Linked DNA regions of Homo sapiens: region 2 is linked to region 1. The links come from fine-mapping of genetic effects on plasma protein levels. A gene starts in region 1. The other region holds a variant in brackets. All regions are shown on one strand. Distances are from middle to middle.

Evidence for each region. A credible set is the group of variants that fine-mapping cannot tell apart. PIP is the chance, under the fine-mapping model, that this variant and not a neighbour inherited with it causes the effect. The UK Biobank Pharma Proteomics Project read protein levels with antibody pairs (Olink). The fine-mapping took linkage between variants from a reference panel, not from the people measured, so its PIPs are less certain.
Region 2: its variant is the best candidate, but not a certain one, in a credible set for the plasma level of the REG3A protein (UK Biobank, PIP 0.86).

What each region holds. Positions count from the first base shown.
Region 1 is chr2:79,158,151-79,161,066 of GRCh38, forward strand. REG3A (regenerating family member 3 alpha) reads right to left here and starts at 1,603. Exons shown (of 6, transcript NM_002580.3): 1 at 1,578-1,603; 2 at 1,180-1,289; 3 at 501-619; 4 at 176-313. The coding sequence starts at 1,255.
Region 2 is chr2:79,249,769-79,252,684 of GRCh38, forward strand. It overlaps a transcript of CTNNA2 not described here. Among named protein-coding and RNA genes, the nearest start is that of REG3A, 91 kb to the left of the region's middle. The variant G/A (reference allele first, on the strand shown) is at 1,301.

The DNA.
Region 1 (2,916 bases):
ACAGAACTCAGATCTTCAGATGCTTCATGGCCTTCCCTTTCCCCCCAAATATTCCCCAGAATCTGAGCTCCAGTGCTCCCTGAAGTACTTCCTGGGCAGGCACAGGGGACAGGGAGTGGGCCTGGGCAACAATAGCACCTTGAGAGGTAACAGAGAGGGGAGGATATACTGGCACCTGTGTGGGGTCATGGAGCCCAATCCAGACGTATGAGTAGCTGTTACCAATGCTCTTCACCAGGGAGGACACGAAGGATCCCTCAGCCCCACTGAGCACAGACACCAGGTTTCCAGAGGGCCGCTTCTGGCAGGCCAGCTTTGAGGGCAACAAAGAGAATGAGAGGGAGCCTGAGACCTGCTGAGGGAGGGCAGGGCAAAGGTAGGTGGGAGGAGGACTGTGTGAAAGATAAACGTGTTCATCCTCATTCCCAAGGAACTCTCCTGAATGGAGACCCTCCTCCCCCTGAGACCGGTCACCTCCAACACCACATCTAACCACTCACATCTGCATCTGTCCAGGATTTTGGTGACAAAAACAAGGCATAGCAGTGGGAGCCATAGGCCTTGGAGCCTTTGGGACAGCGGATCCGTGCAGAGGGCAGTTCCCTCTGGGGTTCTTCACCTGAGGTGGAAGAAGAGGGGGGAGGGTAAAATGAAGAGTGGGGCTTGGGGTGGGAGATGACCTTGGGGAATACCTAGGAATGTCCTTGGGGAGGAAGACCACATTCCTGACACCCCTTCATCTTCCCTTATGTTTTCAGAAATTCTTTATCTCAAAATAGCCGTAGTAAATGGAGCACCATCCAGTCTCTTATTACCCTTTCCCCTTATTCAACCATTCAATACTCTCCTCACTCTGGGCTGTCTCTACATTGGGTCCTCCAATCATTGTCCCTCCCCACATCTCATTACTGACCCTCCAGTGTATATTAGAGTCCACTTTCCCACCAGTGTATATTAGAGTCCACTGACTAAATGGAAGCCATCTCATTCCACTGTTAGTGGACCACCATGGAGCCTCCCACTGCAAGTTAACCTGAAGGAAGGAGAGATGATGCAAGAACTGCAGGCAGGTTCATTAGACACCACGTCATTACCTCACATGACACACAGGAGCCTTCCTCCTCTTGTTAGCTCTGAGGATTCATAGGGAACCCAGTGCTAGAGGCAAAGCAATCTCACCTTGAACCTGAGACAGCAGCATGAGGCAGGAAAGCAGCATCCAAGATACACTGGGCAGGGCCATGGGAGGCAGCATAGTGTCTGCGACTTGAGGAGGCAATCAGGAGTCACTAAAGAAAGCGTGGTCAGTGGGAGAACACACAGATACCCCACTGCCTCATGTCATTTTCCTTCTCTAGTCCCCTAGGACTAAAGTGATCTTGGTCACATCCATCATCTTCTACAGTTCTGAATGAGTTGTGAATCTGTGTACTCTCCCATCCCCGAGCCCTCCCAGGACACCCTTGCTGAGTCTCAGAGTTCCTGTGCTCCCTGAGGAAGGGACCCTCCCATGTATTCTCCTGTGTCATGTGCAGTAGCTCCTCCCTGGGTCTCATCTTCTCTCAGCTCCCACTTACCTCTCTGGTGGGATATGGTATGGTTTGTCTGGTCAGGAAAGAGTGGGATTTTATAAGAGGATCTGGGGGAGGGACATTGGAGTGAAGAGTGACAATGAGTAGGCAGGACAGGGGTCATGGGGTGGGGTTGGCATGGACTCTTCCTGGCAAAGACTGGGGATTTTCCCAGATGTTGCCTCTTTCCTGTTGGCAGGCCAACACTTTCCCTAGGAAGAGGTGAAGTTTGCTTTTTCCTCTGCATCCTCCTTGTCAAAGGCCTGTGGCACCAAATGTGATATGAAATCTTCTAATGTGGACATCTGAAAGAGGAGTTCCTCTGGTGGGTTTCTTAAGAACCCACTTCTGGAGGCAAACCTATGTATTTCTTATTACCTTGCCTAGTAAGATTAAATAAATGTTAGGTGTTAAGTGAAGATTTACGGGAATTATAAGTATCATGGACAGTTGAGGACATAGATGGTACTGAAGCTAAGAGTAGGAGTGAGGGTTCAGGGCCATTATGCAAGCATGATAGCTAATTTTGATGAAACTTCAGAATTGTCTGACAAGTCAATACATGAGCCACAATCTTACAGAAAATCAGGTGAATGGACTTGTCTTTCCAGTCTTCAGCAAGAAAGAGCTTCCCCAGTGGAGAATGACAATGGCAATGTGATAGAATAAGAGGTAATGAAGGAAAACAAGACATAAGAAGGACTACAGTCAAATAATGAGGATCAAAGAAGAATGAATAATAGTTAAAGAAGGGAAGAGCAGCCATTGTGTAAAATCATAGGTCAGTTGGCCAGGTGCTGTGGCTCAGGTCTATAATCCCAGCACTTTGAGAGGCTGAGGTGGGAGGATCACCTGAAGCAAGGAGTTCAAGAGCAGCCTGGGCAACACATTAAGACCCTATCTCTACAATTTATATTTTAATTTAAGCCAGTTGCGGTGGTGTGTGCTTGTGGTCCTAGCTACTCAGCAGGCTGAGGTAGGAGGACCTTCAGTTGAACCCAGGAGTTCAAGGCTGCAGTAAGTTATGATCATCCCACTGCACTCCAGCTTAGGCAACAGAGTGAGAGCCTATCTCTAAATTTTTGTTTTGTGATGTTGTAAACATAATTCTGAATTGCATGTAAGTCTCTATTACATCAAAATGCTCACTACTTGTAGGTTGCTCATGAGCTTCCTTGCTGGACTGCCATTTGGCTGTACATTAAAAGCCCTTTTCATTGCATTCTTACTGGGCAAATGGTCAGCTTCATATGGGTATACTGGGAGAAGTTCTTTTAGTCATGTTTATTTTTGAGTTAGCAGTTTGGTGCCTCTGACAAGCATACTACATTGCCCATACACTGGT
Region 2 (2,916 bases), 92 kb after region 1:
AGTTTCCAACAGCTTTCCCACTTAGATGTTTAGTCCCCTCTTTAGATTAGGAGCTCACATTCACCTTCTCCTAATAGTATGGGTCCCTGCTACCCCACTAACTTTTGCCATTACTTTGTTTTTAAAATTGGTGCTTTTTCCCCATCCTGGGTCTTCTGATAAGAAATTAACACTTTGAACTGCATCTGCCTGACTCCTGAGTTTTTGTATCAGCTACATTTGCTACTGCTGTGTTCCATAATCAACAAGGCTAATGATGAAAATTCCTCCTGAGCATGCTACATCCCATTGACTGCACTGGTATCAGCCTTGATGGTTAGAAAAGCTGCCTAGTACTGCCACACACTGCCCAGGATTGTCTGTTTTAGCCTCTATGTCACCCTTTGCAATGAAGATTAGGTATGCTTCCACCCTGAGCCCTTGTAAGTCATTTAGTAGGGAATTATGGCCTGTTTGTAGCCTATTTAGGCATTTCTATTGTTCAACAAGACTTAGGTCTACAGAAACCCTCAAAAAGCAAGCCTTTTCCTAAGATCTGTCTCTATGTTGGGCTCCAGCATATTCACAGTGAGGATCCTGTATGCACACTTGCCTGGGAAGCCACTTGGTCCCTTGCAGACTCATAACTATACTGCTCCACCTCTGTAATTACTGGGTTTACTTGGAAAGGGTTGTATCAGCTGAGGTGCCAGGATCAGAAATAATATAAATATTTTAAGTTTTTATGCAGAGAGTCCTAGACTCAGAGGTAGGAGGCTTCAGTTCTAGCCACAACTCCCTTTACCCTTGAGCGAGACAGGTAGCTTTTCTGGATTTGCGTAAGAATGGCCCTATCTCAAAGCCCTGTTGAGGAGTCTCTGGGATATCTGCTACATATCTGGTTTATGAATTTTATTCTTCCTGCTAGGCCTGTGGACTCACATTTTGGCACTCTTTAGACAATATTCAGCTCACAGCCATATTTTATTTGGTATGCACTGTGTTTTGCTTTGTATTACATTTGAATGCCTTATTTAGGTCTGCCTCTCTGCATCCTCATGGTTTCTTCTGCTCTGTTTTCTCTCTCACTTGGCTCAACTCACCCTCGCTTGGTCCCAAAGACATTTGAATTTTTGGCTTCAGGTCCAATGTGTGTAGACGTTGCTCCTCTGGGTTTACGAAAATAAAAATAACTACCCCAGGCTCATTTTCTAAATGCAAACGAGTTTATTTGGGAAAAAAATGATTTACTCTGAGATCAAAGTACTATGTCTCCGTAGTAATGGTTAAAATCTGGCACTTCCTACAGGTTCTGTTTGAT[G/A]CCATCTGTTTTATCATGAACAAACCACAGTACAGTTCAGTTCAGCTCAGCTCTGCTCCTCTGAAATGCCACCAAGGCCCCAGATGCCCATTTTTGGGATGTGGTCAGCAAGAGGAGTGTTGAGATTTTACCTCATTGCATTGTACCTGCGCTTCCGAAGCAGGCTGCAGCCACTTCCAGTTTATGCTCTGTTACTGATCCATGATTCAAAAAACCCTGCTGTTTCTGCTGCAGGGTCTCCCTACTTGCCTGGAGCTGTGGAATGCACCATGAACCAGGAACAGCATGGGGCAGAGCCCTCAGAGGACCACAGCTATTGTGATTGTCAGCCTCTAAGAGGACCCTACTCATCCTCACCTCCTGGTACTGACACCCATGTGTGAACCTTTCCCTTTAAGTATGGGCTGGATTCAGTAACTCACTTCTAACCAATAGTGTACAGCAGAGTGATGGAATGTCACTTCCAAGATTAGGTTATAAAAGAACATAGGGACCTCTTTTGCTTTCTCTCTCATTTGGAGTCCTCACTCTCGGGGAAGCCAGCCGTCATGTTGTGATCAATCTTATTCAGAGGCCCACATGGTAAAGAACCGATGAAGACCTGAGGTCTGCCTATAGTCCTACCAACAACCACATGAGTCAGCTTTGAACTGGGTCCTCCCCAACTTGGGCCTGGACATGACTGCAGCCCTGGCTGACACCCTGGTGGCAGTCTGTAAGAGACACTGAGCCAGTGGACCCACCTAAGCCATGACCTGCTTTCTGATCCACAGAAATAAAATTTGTTGTTTGAGACTATTGAGTTTGAGGATAATTTGTTATACAGCAATATATACTAAACCGCCACTGATTGCGGCGTACACCAGAAATATGGAAAATATGATGGAAGTGGTCTGGGGCAGGAATAATACACAGTCTCAGCTCTCAGTTGGTCAGCTGTCAGAGGCCAGAGAATAGATATCAAGAATTCAACACAGATCAAACACACCAGAAAGGGGCTCTGCACAGGTGGAGATCAGATCTTTACATTCTTCTCTACCCAGACTGACCCTTTACACCTTATCTTTATGCCTGAAATGCATTCAGCTTATCAGCTCTGCAAGAATATAGAGGTAAAAATGGGAACATCTTGAGGGATAAAGAGTGTGTTTACAAAAAAGACTGCTTGACTTCTGATCAAGTTTGAAACAGTCCCTCAAGTTAAAAGAGCATGTTTGGAAGAGATTTTTTTTTTTCATACAGTAGGTATAGTTTCTCTGTAATAAAATATTTCATTTATTTTGTTAATTTGTTTAATAATTTTATGCTTGGATCTTTTTCCCATTCAGAGATTGGTAAAATCTTCACCTCTGGTTTTGTGGTTTTTCTATATGGTTTTAACTTTTAATATTAAAATTGTTGATATAACTAGAATTATTTTTAATGTACAATGTATAGGTATAACTTGATTTAGGTATAACTTGATTTTTCCCTTCACTTAGCCAATTTCCCAGGACCATTTCCTGAGTAATTCGAGCTTCATTTGTAAGTTTTTTTAATCATACACAGTCATATAGGTTTATATTCATCTAAGGTGGGCTATGCCTTTTTTTTTATGCATAGAAACTGGCTGTAGA